Regions from separate parts of the Homo sapiens genome. Here region 1 is linked to region 2. Evidence: fine-mapped expression QTL. A gene starts in region 2. The other region holds a variant in brackets. All regions are shown on one strand. Distances are from middle to middle. Region 1 has its middle 25 kb from the start of SNORA59B. Region 2 holds the start of SLC47A2 (solute carrier family 47 member 2).

The links. PIP is the estimated chance that this variant, and not a neighbour inherited with it, causes the effect.
Region 1: its variant is the best candidate, but not a certain one, in a credible set for the expression of SLC47A2 in thyroid (GTEx, PIP 0.75).

Annotation. Positions count from the first base shown.
Region 1 is chr17:19,580,968-19,583,868 of GRCh38, forward strand. It overlaps the pseudogene SLC47A1P1. Among named protein-coding and RNA genes, the nearest start is that of SNORA59B, 25 kb to the left of the region's middle. The variant C/A (reference allele first, on the strand shown) is at 1,498.
Region 2 is chr17:19,715,120-19,718,020 of GRCh38, forward strand. SLC47A2 (solute carrier family 47 member 2) reads right to left here and starts at 1,465. Exons shown (of 17, transcript NM_001099646.3): 1 at 1,314-1,465; 2 at 1-98. The coding sequence starts at 1,436. LOC124903948 (a long non-coding RNA gene) reads left to right here. Exons shown (of 2, transcript XR_007065659.1): 1 at 1-116; 2 at 2,255-2,901. RefSeq lists enhancers at 943-1,792, 1,793-2,640.

The sequences.
Region 1 (2,901 bases), 130 kb before region 2:
GAAGGAGACTCCGTCTCAAAAAAAAAAAAAAAAAAAAAAGGAAAGAAAAAAAAATCAGTTTGAATTGTATCATGTCTTATGCATCTTCCTTTACAGGTCTGGGACTGACCTGTGGCTTACCATTACCTGATTAGATTTGGAAGGAGCTCGTGTCAATACTTAGAAAAGTGTAAAACTGAAATAACTGCACTTTTTTCTATTATGAAATTAAATCAGGAGACTTTTAGGTAATTTAGGTTGTTTGCCATTAATTGGATTACACAGTACATTCAGCTCCCACCCTTTCACCCTTGTGGAAAAGCCTCTCCCATGGATTGAAATCACACCTCCTGGGACGTCTGTTCCCTGGCTTTTGTTAGTGATGTGGAAAGTTGTTTCTTCCTGCATTTCATCCAGGCTTTCAGAGAAAGTGGAAAACACTTCTGCTGGTGATGGTAGGCGGCTTTCCCTAGTCTCAGAAAATGTCCCCTGTGTCCCCGTGAGATGGGTACACACCCTAAGAACACGGAGGGCCACCGGAGCTTCTCATTCAGCTACATGGGAGCCAAGACCTTGCCAGGTGGAATCAGTCACACATTTTATTTACAGGTCTGTTATTTGGTGAACGTATTGGATTAAGGGACATTTTTGCTTCCTTTGAAAGTTTAGACTGGGACTCTAGGAAGAGGCATGAAGGCAGAGGAGATTCGTATACATGGCTGCTCCAGTGTCCCCACCGGGAAAGACGAGCTTGGCCTCTACCTTAACAGGATGATGATCTAAGACTGGCAGGGAAATTTCCTGCTGTGTCCCCGCAGGGCCCAGGATTGGGGTCCACCTTTTCTGATTACTGCTTGCCAACCATCACTGCCCCCAGGGTGCTCCCTGGGCTCACTTCTGGGCCATCGGTCACTCCTCCATGTGGATGACATCTAATGGCCAGTCAGCCACCTTGTTCAAGAGGACCTCAGCATCTGGGTGTCCACTCTTCTCCTCTCCCCGCCTCTGCTGTCATCCCTGGGGCTGTGGGCTCGACTCTGTGACCCACAGTCACAGCTTTCATTTTTGAAAGGGATCAAGACCATGTAATTGGCCGAAAATGTCCACACAGGTACAATGACCAGATAGCCACCTACTCTTAACCTAGGATTGGGAAACAGGGGACCTCACCTGGAGACTTCGGGTCTTGTTTTAAGAGCAGGAGGATGCGCTCGGTGTTGACCAAGTCGGCCCAGCAGGGAAAGCAGCACAGCATAAGGATGAGGACCCCTCTCTGAAGTATGATCCCCACGCGCTTGAGGTTCTTGCCTCCAAAGGACTTGAGAAAACAAATGCACTGCTAACAGCATATGCCAGGCAGGCCGAGGCTGGGGGCCTGCGCCACAAGCAACCCCTCCCAGGGGCGCCTGCCCGGCGCCCAGGCAGACCGGTTTCCCATCATCTGCTCCCGCCCTCCCCACCAACAGCTGACAGCATTGGGGGAGCTTCTGAGCCAGGGACAACCAGTGAGCTAGCTGG[C/A]CCCTGTGGCATTTTACACGTGTCCTGGGACAATGTGTCCCTGCTCCCAGGAGCTGGGACTGTTAACATGGAGGGTAGAGGTAGCAGAAACTGAAGCTTAAAAGAGAGTTTTCAACATGGGAGGCAGACAGATGCTGCAGGAGAACATGTGCCATGGTAGAAGGTGAAGTTGTGGGGGACTCTGAGGGCCAGGGATACCCGGGGAGGGTGCAGTGGAAGAAAAGCACACACTGTAGGCTGAGAAGGGCAGCTAGCAGGGTGGCAAGAACTTCGGGGGGCGGGAGGTCATGGAGGCCAAGGCAGTGCTCTAGAAAGCAGGGATGGCCAAGTGGATTAAGGACGGCCAAGCGCTCACTTGAGGATTTTGTCATAGGAGGCCGGGAAGAGGCCAGGCCCAGTGGGCTGGGCAGGAATAAACAAGGCATCAATAGGGGCTGAGTCGGGAGTGCAGGCCAGGCCCGAGTGCAAAGAACACCTTCAAGAAGCTTGGCTTGAAGGAGGCCAGCAGGGAAGGAGGGGTGGTGGTAAGGGAGGGCGATTTTAGGGTATGGGAGACCAGACTGGGAGGAACAAAGGACAAAATGCCCTTGAGCAGGTGGCCCCAGAGGACAGCACTAGTCAAGCTGACTCTGCTGTTTTGTTTTTTTGTGTTTTTTTTGTTTTTGTTTTTTCCTGAGATGAAGTCTTGCTCTATTGCCTAGGCTGGAGTGCAGTGGTGAGATCTCAGCTCACTGCAACCTCCGCCTCCCAGATTCAAGCAATTCTCCCACCTCAACCTCCTGAGTAGCTGGGATTACAGGCGCCCACCACCGTGTCTGGCTAATTTTTGTATTTTTAGTAGAGACGGGGTTTTACCATGTTGGCCAAAATTGTCTTGACAACTTAGCTGACCTACCACTGCCCTTGGCCAAAGGCGGAAGAGCGCAGAGCCCCTTATCAGGAACGGGCTACAGAAATTCCTGTGGTTAGGCATGGCGTGGTGGCTCACACCTGTAATCCCAGCACTTTGGGAGGCTGAGGCGGGCGGATCACCTGAAGTCAGGAGTTCAAGACTAACCTGACCAACATGGCGAAACCCCGTCTCTACTAAAAACACAAAAATTAGCCAGGCATGGTGGTGGGTGCCTGTAATCCCAACTACTTGGGAGGCTGAGGCAGGAGATCTCTTGAAACCGGGAGGCGGAGGTTGCAGTGAGATCTTCTAGGAAGATAATAGACTCATTTTTAAGATAACTGTGAAAACAAAATTTTTTACCTTTGGAAAAATGTTCATAGTATAAAAGGACTAATAAAAATGTGTTTTTTTTTTTTAAATAAAGGAACATTTATTTATAGTCCACCTTGTTCCACGAAGAATTTGAACCAGTTTACACAAATACTTCCCTAAAAGAAGGATAAATAAAT
Region 2 (2,901 bases):
ACCGCGAGGGTCACCGATGCCAGCTCCACCTTGCCCAGGTGCCCGCAGAACACAGTGCTCACGATGTAGATCATAAAAGTCAGCACCTGGAACAGGAACTGGAGGACAGCGGCCAGGTCAGACTCGGGGCCACAGGTGCCCACACAGCCGAGCCCTGCAAGACAGGCCTCTCCAGCTTTGAGGGCCCCGCACCAGTGCCCCGAGAGGTCACCTACGCCTGGGGAAGCCAGGGCTGGAGGTCGGATGACCTAGCCCAGCTCCCATTCTGCGTTCTGCAGCTGCAGTCACGCCTGGCCTCCACGTCCCTACCCAGAAGGGTCAGTGCCTGGCGCAGCGCAGTGCCTGGCGCCCTGAGCTTGACCCAAGTGTCTGATACTGCTATTGCAGTTCCTATTATAACAATAATTTGGTCAGGCCGCACACCCCCAAAAAAGGAGGGGAATTAAATACACCAAAATCTTAGTAATGGCTATTTCCAAGTACTAGGATTTGAGTTAAATTTCTTTCTTCTTTATATCTTTCATTTTTTTCTAAAAGTTTTACAGGAAGTGCAATTCCATTACTCCTTTTTGGTTTTGTTTTTTTTGTTTTTTTTTTTTTTTTTGAGACGGAGTTTCGCCCTTGTTGCCCAGGCTGGAGTGCAGTGGCGCGATCTCGGCTCACTGCAACCTACCCGTCCCGGGTTCAAGCGATTCTCTGCCTCTCTCTCCCAAGTAGCTGGAATTACAGGCGCCCGCCACCATGCCTGGTTAATTTTTGTATTTTTAGTAGAGTCGGGGGGTTCTCCATGTTGGCCGGGCTGGTCTCCAACTCCTGACCTCAGGTGATCCTCCCTGCTCGGCCTCCCAAAGTGCTGAGATAACAGGCGTGAGGCAGCACGCCCAGCCTATTCCTCTTCATGATCAGAAAAAATAAATGTATTTAAAACAATTTCCCCTTTGGAAATGAAATGGGTAGCCGGCCCCTTCTTCCCCCTGCGAAGGTGCTGCAGGCTTCATGCATCTCTGGGTCCCATTTGTCCTGGAGCCATCTTCCAACTCAGGCTTTTGTGGGTTTCCAGCTGAGGCACACCCACCCCTTCTGTGTGGGGGCTGCCTGCTGCTGAGCAAAGTCAGGCCCCACTGCCACTGGGGATTGTCCAGAGACAGCTTTCAGGAGCCATCCTGCTGTCCCCAGACTCTGGACCTGGCAGTCAACATGGGCAGTTTCTGGGGAAAATGTGAGCACATTTCTGGATCCTGCCTGCAAGGCAGACACCCTCAGCCTCTCAGCTTCCTCCACTCCCTACCTGCCCCCCAGCTCCTCCTCCTTACCAGGGGTCCAGAAAGGGCAAAGAGAGTCCACATCTCAGTCCCAAAGCCTCTGGGAACCAGCCTGCTGAGGGCAGGGCAGCAGCCCCCATGGTCCAGGGCCACTGTGTCCTGGAGGCTGTCCATTCCTGGCCGGGGCACTGGCTACCCTGCACGCCTGAGCGCCTGCACGGCCAGCTTTGTCCAGCGAGCCACCCCCTGCCTGGGCAGCCCGTGTCGGTACAGCCTGGCTGATGAGTAAGGGGCAGGAGGAGGGGCTACCATGGCAACTTGTGGGATGAGCCCTGCCTCCTAGGGCACTGAGTCCCTGCTGCCAAGCCTACTGCCTCAGCCACTAGGGAGGACAGGTTCCTGGGAGTCACCCAGACCGCTGCCTGTTGTGTCTGGTCTCCCAGAGGGATTGGCAGTAAGGCCTCAGCAGGAGAAGGTCCAGGGCTGCCTGCAGTGGCTGTGGGAGGTGTGCTGAGGCCAGGACAGGGCAGCCTGGCTGGGGCAGCTGAGCCACTGGGCGTCCTGTACCCGGGCGTGATGGTGCCCACAGTGACTCCCGTTTTTCAGAAGAATTGGTGGCCTGCCCGAAGTCACAGAGCAGGTGGTGGCAGAGCCTGAACAGCCCTCAGCCCTGCTTTTCCCTGGGAGGGGTGGCTTCCCAAGAGACAGGGGCCTGGCAAACCCCATGGCAGTGCGGTCCCTAGCCTTTCATGCTGGAGGGGCCTGGGCCTGGGCCTGGGGATAGGGATGGGAGCTAGGACACCTCGGCGGAGTCCCAAGCCCCCCACTGCCCGTCACCCCTTTCAGCAGCATATCTGAGAGCCAGGGGTGGCAGTGCTTGGGAAAGCAGCTCACTATGCACGCCAGTCACTGTGCCCAGCAAGGCTGTGACTCGACGTCCCACAGGGTCCTCTGTCACCTTCCCAAATTGCCCTCTCTGCTTTTCCTTGCAGGGATGGCCTGTGACTCCCCCCTCAACCTGCCTCAAGACCAGCAGGGCAGTGGGAACCAAGAGAGGCATCTAAGGATTGCACCGGTCACCTAGCCCAGTCCTGGATCAAGCTTTTGGGTGTGGTTCAGCCCAGGAGAAGGAGGAGTGAGCGAGGGGGGCAGGAAGACAGCAGGCAGGCTGGCCAGTGGCTGTGGGAGGGCTGAAGACATCCCAAAGGCCCCACTTGGTTCCCATGTCCACCCCTGCAGCGGAGGAGTGGCCGGCAGGATTCCGAGATGCAGCCCCCAGAGCCGCGAGGAGGAAGGAGCAGACCCTGAAGGAGAGGAGGCAGGACAAATACAAAAAAAAAAAAAGGGTTTGCTACACCCATGGGCGGCCCCAAACACAGGCACAGCCCCACCCCAGTCAACACGCAGCCTTCTTTTTTGACACAGAATTCTGAAACGCTCCACTGGATCCTCCCAGGATCACCTGGGAGGTCACATTCCTGCCCTTGTTCTGATGGTTCTTATCACAGCACTCTCCAACCTGTGCACCAAATAGTACCTTTACCACCTGCCTAGAGGAAAGAAGACATTTTATCACCATCGTGATTGTGATGATGACACCAAACAGGAGGAAGTACAGGTGAAAGCTACAGCCCTGCAG